Linked DNA regions of Homo sapiens: region 2 is linked to region 1. A link means that fine-mapping ties the variant in region 1 to the expression of a gene that starts in the linked region. Tissue or cell type: prefrontal cortex. Region 1 holds a variant in brackets; the other region holds the start of a gene. All regions are shown on one strand. Distances are from middle to middle.

Region 1 (8,111 bases):
CTCAGCCTCCTAAAGTGCTGGGATTACAGGAGTGAGCCACCATGCCTGGCTTACTTTGATTTTTTAATAGCACTTATCACTGCCCAATATTGCATCCTTTATTGATTTGTCAATATTCTATCTCCTTCACTAGGCTATATGTTAAGTCATCAAGCATAGGGATTTCACTTAGCTTACCACTGTTATCTCCAGTGCCTAGTACATAGTAGGTCGCAATAAATTATTTGGAAAAGGAAAGGAGAGAGCAAGGGGCTAGTTGGTGGGCTTTGAATACAATGTCCAATTATTCTGAAGGACACTGTCTTCCAGTCACACATGTTTACTCATTTCCCAGCTTACAAATAAACACTTCATGAATCCTTATCATCTTTTGCTTGATTCAATGGGACTATATTAAGTACTTAGCATGTAGATGGTATACTATTATGCATGAAGTAGAAACAAAAGAAATAAGTAGATATTCTTTCAGTCAACAAACATTTGTTGGGTACATCTTATTGTCAGGTGCTAGTCTAGGTGCTGGGAATATAGCAATGAATAAGACAGATATACTGTCACAGAGCTTGTAGTTCAACAGGGAGAGTTAGAATGAAGAATGATGAGCATATTACTTAAGGGAAAAGAGTAGGTACTCTAGTAGATGAAAGTTTATTAGAGGAAAGTTTGTTCAAACTCAGGCCTGAGAGATGAGTTGGCCAAACAGAAGAGGAAAGATGAAGAGTATCTCGGAACAAGGAAACAGAATGTGCAAAAGGAAGTGTGAGGAAATCAGAGAAGTTGTATATGGCGGAAAGCTGAAGTTCTCAGTCTTCCAGATGCTTACAATCCAGGTGGGGAGATAAGACATGGACATGTGAAACAGTTACATAAGAATGCAAGCAACACAGATGGAACTGAAGATCATTTTCTTAAGTGAAATAAGCCAGGTAAAAAAAAGACAAATATTGCATGTTCTCATTTATATGTAGCCGCTAAAAAATTGGATGAGATGGAGGTAGAAAGTAGAAAGAGAGATAACAGAGACTGGGAAGGATGAGAAGGGTTGGGGAGGAGGATGAAGGGACGTGTGTTAAAGGGTACAAACATGGTAAGATAGAAGGAATAAATTTAATGTTTGATAGCAGAGTAAAGTGACTATAATCAACAAAAATGTATTGAACTCGGGTGACAAACACCCCTAAATACCCTGACTTGATCACTATGTATTACATACATGTGACAAAATTTCACATGTACCCCATAAATTTGTACAAATAATAAATAAATAAATATGGGCCAGGCACAGTGGCTCACGCCTGTAATCCCAGCACTTCGGGAGGCTGAGGTAGAAGGACTGCTTAAGTCTAGGAGTCCAAGACCAGTCTCACAAAACTCCATCTCTACAAAAAAATATAAAAATTAGCCGGGTGTGGTGGTACACTTGTAGTCCCAGCTACTCAGGAGGGTGAGGCAGGGGAATCACTTGAGCCCAGGAGGCAGAGGTTGCAGTGAGCCAAGATCACACACCTCTGCACTCCAGCCTGGGTGACAGAGTGAAACCCCATCTCAAAAAAATAAAAATAAGTAAATATGAATGCAAGTACCTGTAAGAAAAAGATCACTGGTTATAGTACTGAGTGCAACAGATTGTGAGTCCTGTAGAAGAGAAAAGAGAGGACAGTGTGGGCTGAAGGTGCCTACATGTCCACAAGAAGCAGATAACATGCAGGCAGAATATGGAAAAGGTATCTGGAATGCGGCTAGATAAACAAAGGTAAGAAGCCTTCTAATCAGGAGAATCGAATCAGTATTTTGGAGAATAGGATGGGCTAGGACTGCTTAGAGTGTTAACATGGGAATGGAGGGAATAATAAAGTTTGATAGCAAGGTTACAAAAGGCGGCCCTTGAAAATAAGCCTGAAGAATTTAGACTTTATCTTGAGGAGGATTAGGAGAGAGTGAAAGTAAAATGTCGGTGAATAACTGACTCCATAACAAATACTTATTGATTACCCATTATATGCCAGGTACTACACTGTGCCAATACAGCAGTGAATAAAACACATCCCTGCCTTCATGGAGGTTATAAAGAAAACACGTTAGATGATAAAGATATGTAGGATAAACTGGGCAGGAAGATATGCCCTTACGAAGAGAAAGGGATGCACATGGAATACATTTGCAAAATAGGAAAAAAAGGAATTGGACAATGAATGAATACGGAGAACAAAGGCAAGACAAGAGTTTTGGGTCTTTGCTTTGCTTTACTTTCCTACTTGCCATTCTGTTTATCCTCACAATTGAGAAATTAGTCTGAATTTAAGACTTTTAAAGAATTGAGTGTTGACTGACACCTGTTTACTAGGCTATTAAAGTTTTTTATTTTTACAAACAGCTTTACAACAATCTAAATTATTTAAAACACAGATTCTCTCAGTCTCTCTGTTGTCTTATATGGGTGGCTTACCTAAACCAGTCAGAAACTGTGTAATAAGTAATTTGCAATAATGGTTGAAATAGAAACAGTGTATTGCACATAGTAGGCATTCAGTAAAAGTATCTGTAAATGAATGAATAAAGTTTTCTAATTATTTACTTTAATAAGTTAGAGCAGAATCAGGGTTTTCTGATAAGAATGTTTTTCTTACTTACCTGAGTTCTAATATACTTCCCTGAGTGTGTAGAGAAAAAGAAGGGTGGTGAGTAACATACTGCAGTTAGAAGGGGAATCTCCCATAATCTCCAGTTTGTCTTATCTATGCCAGAGGCCACCATTTAGTAGAAAACAATGGAATGTGATAGTCATCCAGTATGTGTTTCCAAGGGGGAAAAAGTATTTGAGATCTTCTGCCTTAAAAATCATCCTCAAATGTCATCATTCTACAAATCAGTTGTTTTCCTTTTTCCATATCCCTTTCTGATTTGCTCTAATGCATACATATTAGTTGTATATGTATAGTATATTCATTTTTATTTAATATTAAGCTGGAAATTTAAAATGAAACATTAAAGGTCATCTATGGCAGATTCTTCTACTATGTAAGGTAATCTGGTAGGTTTATAACCCAGGCATTTGGCAATGAGTTGTGGCTAATTGCCTTTGTATATGGTAGAGTTTCCTTGCTTCTTCTTTTATTTCTTTTTTTTTTTTTTGGGGGGGGGAAATGGAGTCTCACTCTGTTGCCCAGGCTGGAGTGCAGTGGTGTGATCTCGGCTCACTGCAAACTCTGCCCCCTGGGTTCAAGCAACTGTCTGCCTCAGCCTCCAGAGGAGCTGGGGTTACAGGCTACTGCCACCACACCCGGCTATTTTTTATTTTTATTTTTAGTAGAGACAAGGTTTCACCATCTTGGTCAGGCTGGTCTTGAACTCCTGACCTTGTGATCCACCTGCCTCGGCCTCCCAAAGTGCTGGGATTACAGGTGTGAGCCACTGTGCCTGGCCAGTTTCCTTGCTTCTTTAAACTTCTCCACCCCTGCAAAACCATCCTCCCTCACCCAACAGATAACCCGAAGATGACTCATGTTCTTCACA[C/T]ACAAACACACCTTTTACTTTAACTTACACACTTTCTACTCTCTGGGCTGCCTTCACTGCAGCCCACAGAGTAGAAAGTGTATAAGTTAATTTTCAACGCAGATTTCATTCACTGAGAAAAGTTTAATGAAAAAAGAATCGCTGGCTGTGGTGGCTAACGCTTGTAATCTCAACACTTTGGGAAGCTGAGGTAGGTGGACTGCTTGAGTCCAGGAGTTCAAGGCCGGCCTGGGCAACATGGTGAAACCCCATCTCTACAAAAAACGCTAAAGTTAGCCAGGCATGGTCGTGCATGCCTGTAGTCTCAGCTACTTGGGAGGCTGAGGCAGGAGCATCATTTGAGCCTGGGATGTGGAGGTGCAGTGAGCCGAGATCACACCATTCCATTCCAGCCTAGGTGACAGAGAGGGACCCTGTCTCCAAAAAAAAAAAAAAAAAAAAAAACCCAAAACCAATTACATTACAGAAAATTAGGAATATAAAGACAAAAAATTACCTATAAAGCTAATCATTAATATAAAAGATTGATTTTTAGTCCATCTGTTTTAGCCCTTTGTAAAGCTAGTTTTTAAATTATAAAAGTAATAAAGTAATACAGAGGTTTTGTTTTCAGTAATGGCACAATAGCTTATATTGGACTGTTTTCCACAGATAACAATTTTGGACCCTGGACAAAATTTTTTAAAAAACCAAAACACTGGAAAGTTACCAAAAGTAATCACAAAGTAAAAAAGACTCCACCCTGGTACTGTGGTTGGAATGTGTCCCCCAGATTTCATGCTTTGTAAACTTAATCCGCTAATTTATATGTTGATAGTATTTGAAGGTGAGGGTTTTGGGAGCTAATTAGGATTAGATAAAGTCATCAGGATGGGGCCCCTGTGATGGGGGAAGAGGAAGGGAGACCTGGGCTGGCACGCTCCTGCCCTCTCGCTATGTGATGCCCTCTGCCATTTTATGACACAGCATGAGGTCACAGCCAGATGCAGCTGCCTGATCTTGAATTTCCCAGCCTCTAGAATGATGAGTTAAATCAACCTCTTTTCTTTATAAATTGCCTAGTCTCAGGTATTCTGTTATAGCAACAGAAAATGGACTAATACACCTGGAAAGGAAGGGAACACCACTTAGTAAAATCCATGTTTAAACAGATTAATCCCCGAGGGCATTTTCCAATTAATGCTGTGGAAGTTAGAACTCAAGCTGAAGTCTGATTGGCTTTAAGTATGAAAGGACAGAGTTTGGGGTTGCCAGAACAGCTGGCAATTGAGGAGGAAAGTTCTGAAAATGAGAGCCGTGAAGACGGGATTTCCAAACCTGTGTATTAATTTTCCATCAAATCCTTGGATGATCTCTGAATTGCACATGCATGGTCTCAAAAAAAGTCCGTTGTAAAGTAACAGGTTAAAAGTGCTCAGCAGAGGCCAGGTGCAGTGGCTCACGTTTGTAATCCCAGCACTTTGGGAGGCTGAGGTGGGTGGATCACCTGAGGTCAGAAGTTCAAGATCAGCCTGGCCAACATGGTGCAACCCTGTCTCTACTACAAATACAAAAAATTAGATGGGTGTGGTGGCACATGCCTGTAATCCCACCTACTCAGGAGGCTGAGGCAAGAGAATCGCTTGAACCCAGGAGGCAGAGGTTGCATTGAGCTGAGATCACGCCATTGCCCTCTAGCCTGGGCGAAAAGAGTGAGACTCTGTCTCAAAAACAAACAAACAAAAATGCTGAGCAGAGATTTCAGTTGTTGCTCACCATAAGATAGATAGATTTTGGAGTTTGAAGGCTACAAAGTCAAAAAGGGGCTTAGTAAACACCTCAAGCTTTCAATAGAAACTTGAGAGGAGCCACACCTTTGAGTAAAGACTCTTTCCTAGGACTAAGGATTTATTCTAAAACTAAGGATAAAATTGAAATAGATACATCTTAAAATTATAAAAACCAAGCTTACACAAGTTCAAAGTCATTAGCCAAAAACTTGGCTGCCTGCTAGAATGAAAATCAGCATTCTTCAGAGGAAGATAATGTTTTATCCACAATGTCTAGTATAAAAAAATTAAACATGTAATGAAACAGGAAAATGTGACTCAAGATCAAGAGAAAGAGTAGTCAACACAAATAAATCCTGACATGACCTACATTAGCAAGAATTTTAAAGCAGTTATAAATATTTTCAAGGACTTAAAGGAAAATGTAGCCATAGTGAGTGAACAGGTGAAGGAATCTCAGGAGAGATTAAAAAAAGAACTAAAATGAAATTCTAGAACTGAAAAGTGTAATATCCGAAATTTAAAAAAATCTCTGCATGGGTCTACCACCAGAGTGAAGGTGGCAAAAGGGTCAGTGAATGTGAAGAGAAGTCAACAGAAAATGTCTAATCTGAAGAACAGAAAAGAACAGGATGAAGAAAAAACGAACAAAGCCTTAGTGAGCATTTGGACAATATTAAGTATTCTAATGTGCATGCAGTTGAAATCTATGGAGAGGAGAGAAATAATGTAATGGAGAAGAAGGAAAATTTGAAAAAGGTAATGACTGAAATTTTCTCAAATTTGGTGAAAATATCAACTAAAAATCCAAAAATCTCAGTGAATGCCTAGCATCCAAAAGACAAAGAAAACCGCAATATGTACTACCAAATATAAAGAGATGGTCTTAAAACAATGAAAGGAAAAAATTACATATAGGAAAACAATTAATTATAACTGAATTCTCATCAAAAACAATGGAGATCAGAAGACAATGGTATGACAAGTTTAAAAGGCCGAATACAAAAAGGGATACAAAAAGGAATACAAAAAGATGTCGAAGGCAAATGACATGGTATGACAATTTGGATCTACAGGAGCAAAAGGTAAACACAAAAGACCATCTATATTAGTTTCTTGTTGCTGCTGTAACAAATTACTACAAAGTTAGTGGCTTAAAACAAGACAAATTCATCTTATGACTCGAGGTCAGAATTCTGAAATGAGTCTGTCTTAGGCTAAAATTAAGGGGTTAGCAGAGCAGTGTTACTTCTGGAGGCTTTAGGGCAAAACAAATGTCCTTGCTTTCTCCAACTTTTAGAGGCCACCTGCATTCTTGCTCATAGTCCCATTTCTCTATCTTCAAAGCCACCAATGGCTTTGAAGTCAAGCCCTTTTCACGTTACCATTTGCATTGGTCCTCTACTGCATCCTTCTTTTCATTTTAAGGATCCTTATGATTACACTGAGACCTTCTGGGTAATTCAGAATGTCCTCCCTATCCTAACAGCAGTTGATTAGCAAGTGTAATTCTATCTGCTACCTTAATTTCCCTTTACCATAGGACCTAACATATTGAGAAATTCTAGAGATTAGGACCTGGACTTCTTATTGCACGGGGAGGGCATTATTCTGCCTACTACACCAATTTTTTTTCCTCTTAATTTCTTAAGTATAACTGTTATTGCACAAATCATAACATAGTATTTTGGCATTAATAAATAAGTAGATATAAAATGTATGATAGCAATAGCACAAGGGGTGAAAGGGGGTAAATAGGATAAACTGCTGTAAGTTTACATGAAGTGGTATCATATTAACTCGTAGCAGACTATATTAGGGATGCATATTATCATCCCTAGAGCAAAGTTTCTTAAATAGAGTTCTATGGAACCTAGGTTTCTGCAAGATGTTGCTAGTTTTGAATTACCTTCTCTAATCTTCTATTTCATGCCACACACTGACTTACGTTAGTGAACAAGCTCTGTCAGTGAAATAGCAAATAGGAAGTTTTCCTTCTAAAGAAGGAATTTTATTTGATAAGATTTACTTGCCCCCTGGCCACTCCACTGTTGTTATAAATGTTGAAAACATAAATTATGTAGGCTAGAAGTAAATTGCATTGTGAAAATTTTGGCATTTTTTTGTGATTTACACACTTAGTTATCATACCCTTTTGTTACGTATTTTATTAGAGTTTATGTTTTATAAAAATGCCTGATGATCTAGTATGGTGACTTTTGAAGAAGAGGTGTGAGAAGGATGAGAGGTATTTTAGGCCAACACTTATTTAAAATTCTAATATGTTAGTAATGAATAATTATAATCTTCAGAGTCATTTCATTACACAAGTGCAACAAAGGACATAAAGTCTGTCTTTACAATAATGCTCTTTATCAATAGGTTTTACATGGACTAGGAATCCAAGTTTTCCTATTCCATTGTGTATCATTGGCATTCACCAATTTCTAAATGTAACGGTAGTTCCACCAAAAATGAAAAGACACTTAAAAATTACTACCATTTGACGACCAGAGATGCTGATTACTTTATGTGGCAAGTTCAACCTCAAAACATAATGAAACTTTTACTTTTTTAAAAAAGTCACATTCTATGAAAAGTCTCAGCAATTTATTTAATAAGAGAACTTATTGCTCAGAAAAGGAAAAGTCACACATTTGGTGAGAACATAATAATGCATTATTCAAAATTGTAGTGAGTTAAAGGCTAGAACAAGATGCAGCATAAGAAATTGAAAAGTTCCATTCTCAAATAGTACAATAAGTTGACATACTGATAACATGTCTCATGATGGTAAAGAAATGTTCTATAATAAATTGAAAATTAATA
Region 2 (8,111 bases), 960 kb after region 1:
GACTAGTTTCAATATTTTCACCTTGATTAACACAAATCCCCAAATTTTTCAGAAACATCTTTCTCACCAAATCTAGGTTTTTCAGTGAATTCACTATGATTCTTTCCATCAGAGGCCTTACAAATTGAGTAGGAGAATTAATATTTGCTGAGTGCATATTTCATACCATGGGCTCAAAATATATTATTTAATTTAGTGTGAAAAGAAAGCCTATGATATGTGTAATGTATATGCTTTTTGATCTCTAATAAAACTGTGGCTAGAAACACATACTTAAGAATGGCTAGAACACAGATTCTGTCTTTCCCCAAAGGTCTCTTCTCTTTCTACCATATATGCAACATTTCCAAAGGCTCATAGCTAAAATCCACTGATGTGAGCTAGCCATAATACTTTCCTTCCCACTTCTTCCCACAGAAAAGAATTGGGAGGCACTCAGGCTTTTTTGGGGGGAAAAAATCATTTGCAAATGAATAAGCATGAAGTAAGAACAACAGGGTGGTAAACCACATGAAAACTTCCCATCCTGTCACTAATCTAGTTTCAGATTTTATGATGAATGAAGTCTAGTCCCCTTGGAGTGATTTTATTAATGATAATATTATTATTCCCCTATTATCATTTACTTTTTCCATAATTAAAAAAATATTTGGACTATTTAAAGCTTGGAGGATTGCAGTTTATGTAAAACTGATTTGACCACTTGTCAAGGTCTGTGTCTCCAAGTTCTACTGAGAAGTGATATAATTGCAATTACAGGCATCTCATATTTTGTAAACAGTTTGAGTTCCAAGAGTTCACTAGTTAGAAGTTTGGCATCAGTGCGTATTTTCCCATTGACCTAATCTAATAAAGGGTGATTATTTCCCAAGCTGGCATTTCCTTGTTTTCTCCTCCCACCTCCTGCCCTCAACTCCCAAAACAACCACAAAAAAGGGGAAAAATCTGTTTAAACCAGGGTAAACACTCCCACTAATTTTACTGGTCTGAGGTCTAGAGCGTGTTGGAAAAGGGGATTCATAATTTAATAAGGAAGAATTCAATAGGTGAAAGTTGACTTTATACCAGTAAAAGCCACCCTTGCCTAAGAAGTTGCTCCTGATCTGCACCCCAAAGCTTTATATACTTTTTTAAAAAAATAATTCTCTTTCTACATTTCTAAACTGGCTCTTTCTCCAGTGGTGACACTTGAATGAAAGAAACAGAAAAAGGAAAAGGCGAACTTCCATATTTTTTAGCGGGTTCATGATATGAAGGCTCTCTAACATCTATCTGATACCTCTTAAAATCAGTGGCAAGTCTAAGAATGGTAACACCTTAAATGTATTTCTTCACCCAGGCTTCAAAATTGCTTAGTAGTGATATTTTTCTCCCTTATTTTTCTCTGAACATACTAATTCCAATAATAAAAGTACTTTTAGAGAGGATGCTACATTTTTGAGGTGGGTTTCATGTTTTTAAAAGTTTAATTTTTATAACATCCTGTAAATATGGACATCTTTTGTCATTATGCCAATGTTACGGATTAAACATCTGAGAATTTGAGATAGTAGAGTTCATTAAATCCTCACAGGCCCCAAAAGACTATAATCTAGGCCTTCCCCATCCCAATTCCAAGGCTATTTCTCCCATTTGGTCTGTTAATTTAACTCACCTCTTTAGATTCAGACTCCATGAGAAGAGAGATTTTTTTTAATGCTTTATCCTTAGCACCTAGGACACTATCTGGCACTTAGTAGGTACCCAATAAATGCTGAATAAAAAAAATTAGTCATTTTTATCTTAATGTTCTTAATGATTTTTATCACAATAATCTTAGTTAACTTTTCAAATTGTCTTCACATTTACAAGAGACAACATAAAGTGTGGTTAAGAGCACAAGCTAATTTTCTATAATAGATGTTAGATTATACCCTGAGTTGCTGAAACTTTCAATCTGCAGTTTTAATTGCTGACTTGAGCAACCAAGAAACTGGCGAAAATAGAAAAAAAAAAGTCACAGAAGAAGTATTGGCCTCTTGCAACTCTTCTCTCTCCTTCTTACCATTCCAAAAATCTAAGAATAGTATTAAACTTGATAAGGAATAAAAACAGCCAAAAATATCAAAGCTTAACATCCAGTCTGTGGCTCAATAGAAACTGTGAAGAATCATCTTCTAGAATAGGCGACTTGATTAGCTAATTTCTAAATTATCTGACAGTTGATTTCCTGCATTATCTTCACTCTATTCATTTTTTAAAATAAAGTCATAAAGAACACAGCTTATAATCATTACTGCTTGGGGTAGAGCAATAAGATTTTATGTTCCCACATAGTTTTTGAGGCACTGACTATAAAGACCAAAACCAAGGTCAACTGACATCCCAAAGGCCAGTTACAGCTAGGAAGTCTTTCTAGAGCTCTAGGAGGAAAGGTGAAAGGAAGGGAAAGAACAACAAAACAGAGAGAGGGAAGAAAAAGAAAAACCTCTCCAACAGCTATGCTTTATTTCATTCATAGGAATGAGTCTTTGCCCTAACATGGCTTTATACTACAAATGATAACTACTGTTCATCAAGCAGCTATGTGCTATGTGTTTCACATGCATGGTATCATTTGATTGAATCCTCACTAAAACTGTAAGGAAACCACTATCATCTTGAAGACATCAAGATCTAGTACTTACCCATGGATATATACATAGAAATTAACCTTGCTAGGACTTGATAGTTCTTTGGAATCTAGGGCCCCCGCACTTGACCTTCATATTGTACTGTCTCCCGAAGAACAATACATGTATCTTGTGGACCATGGGCAAGCTGCAATTTAAAAAATGCTGTTTCCTTGCTCGTGCCTTGGTTGCTAACCTTTCTCACTTAAATCCTATCAAACAACTTATTTGGAGTCAATGGATAGTGAGAATGCAAAAGAAAAAGTGGTGAGCACACAGTGTGCAGAACTGGAATCATAAGAGAGGCACCTTGGAGGGGGCCACAAGTAAATGCTGAAATATCAAGTAGCTGTGGTGTGAGTCTTGTTTTCACTAAAACTATTTTTAAGGAGGAGTTACTACATGTATTGTAACCCCATCCTCTATCCCACTCCCTACCTCATATGTAATACTGCTCCACAAATGGAAGGGTACAGAATTCAGATCCTGGTTGCCCCTCTCCCCAAAGGAAAAAAAAAAAAAAAAGATAGTCAAGGACGGTCTCTATGGAAGGACCCAGAGAATCATTTCATCCAGTATCATGGGATGTGAGCACCCTTCAGCAACCCCCTCCATTTCCCAAATCATCTTGCAGCCTTAGTAAAAGAGAGGAAAGAGATTTACCTGCTTCTATTGAGGTTGAAGCCTGAAAGTCATGTATAACCTTTGAAGCACTGTAATGGTTTTAATCACAGGAATAGCATCTTTTTGAGAGGCAGGAGAGAGAAAGGAGCTGAACCACTCTGCAAATATTAACCCGGCTATTTTGGAGCAATGGCTATTGCCTTTGAAATCTTTCATCATGGGTCTATACTTAGAATTCAGATGAGCGCAGGGGGAGGGGAATAGGGCAATGTTAATCCCCAGTTGTTTTGAAGTTGTCCTGTAAGCAGGTTAGTATCTAAACTGCCCAAAATGGAAGGGTTCAATGCTTTGTTTAAGTTATGTGATTCTCTCTGTGTAACCTGGTCTGCACATAGATTGTCACAACACTCTGGGAGGTGACACTTCTCAGTTTTCTTTCAAACTAGATGTTCTAGAGAGCACTAGCTGCAATCACATTGGGAGACTGATGCTCCATGACAGCTAAAAGTTGGATTGAGTTTCAGGAGCTACTATATATAAAGCTGGGTCGACTTATGTCACTGCACTAATTAAATGCCATCTGGGTGGTTCCTCTGGGTTTTTGAGTCCATCACCCAGTTCAGATCGAGTCAGAGGCCAAGGAGGAGAACATGATGATGGACCTTTTTGAAACTGGCTCCTATTTCTTCTACTTGGATGGGGAAAATGTTACTCTGCAGCCATTAGAAGTGGCAGAAGGCTCTCCTTTGTATCCAGGGAGTGATGGTACCTTGTCCCCCTGCCAGGACCAAATGCCCCCGGAAGCGGGGAGCGACAGCAGCGGAGAGGAACATGTCCTGGCGCCCCCGGGCCTGCAGCCTCCACACTGCCCCGGCCAGTGTCTGATCTGGGCTTGCAAGACCTGCAAGAGAAAATCTGCCCCCACTGACCGGCGAAAAGCCGCCACCCTGCGCGAAAGGAGGAGGCTAAAGAAAATCAACGAGGCCTTCGAGGCACTGAAGCGGCGAACTGTGGCCAACCCCAACCAGAGGCTGCCCAAGGTGGAGATTCTGCGGAGCGCCATCAGCTATATTGAGCGGCTGCAGGACCTGCTGCACCGGCTGGATCAGCAGGAGAAGATGCAGGAGCTGGGGGTGGACCCCTTCAGCTACAGACCCAAACAAGAAAATGTAAGCCTAGATGCTGCCGGGGCAGGGAAATGCGAAGGCTGATTAAACGCCTTCCGCGGGGCCTTAACCTCCAGCTGCTTGGTCTTTTTTCCCTTCCCCCTTTCTCGCCCGCCCCTCCCGCTCCGTCTCTAATGAACCCCCAGTGACCCAAGAAGACCGGGTGCTTGCAATAGGCAGGAAATGCGTACCCGGCCCGAGGAAGCAGGAAAGCCGCCCCCCACCCCACCCCAACCCCGGAACCGATGTTTCTTTCCTAATCTGCCGCTGCCTTGGTTTTCCCTCCAGCTTGAGGGTGCGGATTTCCTGCGCACCTGCAGCTCCCAGTGGCCAAGTGTTTCCGATCATTCCAGGGGGCTCGTGATAACGGCTAAGGAAGGTAAAGTAAAAGGGCTCTGGGCCGCACCAGAGAAAATCCGGGAGGTGGATAGGATGCTTGGGCCGAGAGGGCTCGAAGCGAGAGCAGGGACGCGCCCTGCGAAAAGGGCGCTCTTTGCGCGCCGGGACCAGGCCTTTCCTCGCTGCCAAAGCGGCCTCGCGCGGGGCGCGGAGCTGCTTCGTGTTCCTTCTTTGGGTGCTATGTTTGTGTGTTGTTTTTTCGCTCAGGAGGAGCAAGTATTGATTCGTCAGCCTCGAGTAGCCTTCGATGCCTTTCTTCCATCGTGGACAGTATTTCCTCGGAGGAACGCAAACTCCCCTGCGTGGAGGAAGTGGTGGAGAAGTAACTGAGCCTGCGCTTGAGACCTTCTCCACGCAGCAGGAAGATCCCACCGACCCTTCCTGGCCTAATCCTTTAGATTAGGTCACATTACATTAACATTTAGGAACCCAGACCGAAAAGTTGCTGAAAGGGAAGGAGACACATTCACAAAGAAACGTTGCGAAAATTGCGAAATCTGTTGTGCATGCTCAAATGAAAACGCCTTTCGGCTTTGGGCTTTTATTTTTTTGGAACTGCGAGTGGCTTAGGTCTAGCCTCATTTTGTTTTTGTTTGGTTGGTTTTATACTATATTAACTTTTATTACGGTGATCCTTTTGTGCCATGTTCAAAAGAAGTTCATTCCTGTCTAAAGTGGGAAAGTTGCATTTAATGTTAGGGGTATTTAATGTATTTTTGTAAATAGTTTAACACTTTCTTTTTTTACGTAAACCTGAAATATATTTTAAATGTGGAATGATGTATATAAAATGTGCGAGGATCCTGGTATTGTAATATTAAAAAGAAGTTTCTATATGAACAAAGTTGGTCCTAATTTGATGGAACTGGAAAAATATGTTTGGAGGCATGTGTACAAAAATAAAGAGGAGCCATATTTTAATTTAGACACCACACAAGCCCATTTATTTGGGTGTTTCCTTACATGCCAATTGAAAGGAAATTTGGCTTTCCTTAGTCTGAATTAAACTGGATACTGTTCTCTCTCTCGTAGACCTCACACTTGTCATTGGAAGTGAATAGTGCCCAGAAGAAAAATGTCATTTTTCCTTTTATCAGCATCTTTTTCCGTCTGGTTTTACACTCCTATACCTGGAGATCTGGGTGAGATTTACTTACCCAAAGTTAACAATGGAATTTTCAATCTAGGAAAATATGGTTGCAAGAAATTACCACACCAAAACTGTGCTCATTTCCCAAAAAGATCTTCAGCGGATTTACCCACAAACGGCCTTCCCTCTTAGCCTTCCCAGGCCGCTCTTGTCCTGAAGTGTGGATCTGGAGTTCCCGGGGCTGCATCCGGCATCCTCAGGGCCGGATCTCGGGCCCCCTCCCCAGTTTTCTTGAACTAGACTGGTCCCTAGCAGACTGGAATATCCTCAAGGCCTCGTTTGGCTTGGGTTTGTTTTCCATATACGAAAGATAAAAGAAATGGGCAATCTGTCTCTGGAGGTGGGGTGGGCTGCTTTGAAGGGAGGGCGGCTTCAAGTGAGGGAAGGTTTCAATGGTTGAGGGCAAAAGACAACAACAACACACATGCAACCTCTTAGCCGAGCCAAACAGCAAAGCCCCAAAGAGGCTAGAAGCCCCAGGAGCTCCTCACCATGCGGATTTTACAACGTGTGCCAGGTTTGTTTATCCTGTAACCTCAGGAAGAAACGACCACCAAGAAACACAGTGGGAAGTGAGGCAGATGAGAGGAGGAAGCCATTTCTTTTGAATTGCGACTCCTCTCTTAGATTCTGTAAGTGGCACCTTCACTCCCTTCCCCCACCCCTGAACTTCTACCTTTCCTCCTCCTCCCCAACAGCTAGTCTTCAGTTAGCAGACGTGAAAATCAAATCGGATTCAGTATTTCCCAGCCCACCCTTTCCTTCCTAACCCTCCAAAGGCTGTACTTTCTTGTTGCGCACCTAAGTTCCAGATAGCACCACAGACAGTGCCCCCTGGAGGTACAGAGCTGTATCTTGCCCCTTTTTCCTCTCAGAAAGGAAAGCCTCTTCCTGGCGATAGTAGTCACTGCGTTTTCTGAGTATATGGGAAATTCAGATTTCTTCTGAAACAAATTTAAAAGGCAGAAAGGTTCATAGTGGAAGCTGACATTGACATACAATCTCTTTTAAAGGTTTGGGAGAGGTAGGTGGGAGATTTAGCTGAGCCTGTGTGGGGTTGGCTACCTAGATGGAATCCAGGCTGCCACTGTCTAGGGCTAGTCACTGCTCATTCTTAGTCCTGTTTCCTCCTGAGGTTGTGAAGATTCACTGAGATAACACATGTGAAGTGCTTAGCCAAAATGGCACAAAATAAACACTAGATGCCAGCTCTCTTCTTCATTAGTCAATTCAAAGACCCTTTTCTTCCATCAAAAGCCATAGTTTCTTCAGCCTTTCCTTGCTCTGGCTGGGGAAAATATTGACAACAATGAGAACAAAAGCAACATAAATGAGCCATTCTTAGTATTTAAATATTAACTCATAATCCTACAACAGATGAGAGAGGTACTGCGAAGATCCTTGGAACAGAGTTTCCTGCACTTGGTTAAGTACTGCATAGAGCCAGGATTCAGAGCCAGGCAATTATCAGTGGATTCAAGCCTGTGTTCTTAACCATCATGCTCTGTGAAACAGATGCCTTGGCACATTGTTAATTTCTTTCTTTCCTCCTTTTTTTTTTCTTTTTAAGGGGTGATGTGTCCCTGTTGCCCAGGCTTGAACTCCTGGATTCAAGTGATCCTCCAGCCTCAGCCTTTCAGGTAGCTGGGACTACAGGCCCATACCACTGAGCCCAGCTTGCCTTGGGAAATTAATAAGCAACATTTTATGGTCTGGGGAAAAATTTGGCTCTCCTTGGCGTTTGTTTTCTAAAAGCTCTCTCTCAAGAGTGGCTAGCTACCGAACTCCAAATTAGAGCAGTAACTTAAAAAAATAAGTGGTAAAGCATTTCAAATTATCCAACCAAAACATGTGTGAATATGTCTGGGTAGTGTCTATGCCCATTAATTATGCTTATTAGATGCCCATCATTTTCTCCCTGAGAATCAATAGGGATTTTCCCCAAATTGTATATATGCACACTTCTATTTTTAAAATTCAAATTTATTATGCAACACAAAATAATGTAACTGATTAGGTGAACTCATTTAATTTATAATTTAGCCTATACTTATAGTAAGATCTGTGTTATAAATGGCTCAACAGCAGAATGCTTTTATTAATTCGTGGACTTTACTTGTT

The links. PIP is the estimated chance that this variant, and not a neighbour inherited with it, causes the effect.
Region 2: MYF6 starts here. The variant in region 1 is fine-mapped to the expression of MYF6 in prefrontal cortex (GTEx, PIP above 0.99).

The regions. Positions count from the first base shown.
Region 1 is chr12:79,744,753-79,752,863 of GRCh38, forward strand. All of the region lies in intron 4 of PPP1R12A-AS2 (PPP1R12A antisense RNA 2), which reads left to right. Among named protein-coding and RNA genes, the nearest start is that of PAWR, 58 kb to the left of the region's middle. The variant C/T (reference allele first, on the strand shown) is at 3,514.
Region 2 is chr12:80,703,795-80,711,905 of GRCh38, forward strand. MYF6 (myogenic factor 6) reads left to right here and starts at 3,840. Exons shown (of 3, transcript NM_002469.3): 1 at 3,840-4,444; 2 at 4,730-4,820; 3 at 5,048-5,680. The coding sequence starts at 3,926. The coding sequence ends at 5,166. LOC105369867 (a long non-coding RNA gene) reads right to left here and starts at 3,444. Exons shown (of 5, transcript XR_007063388.1): 1 at 3,315-3,444. RefSeq lists an enhancer at 3,640-4,549.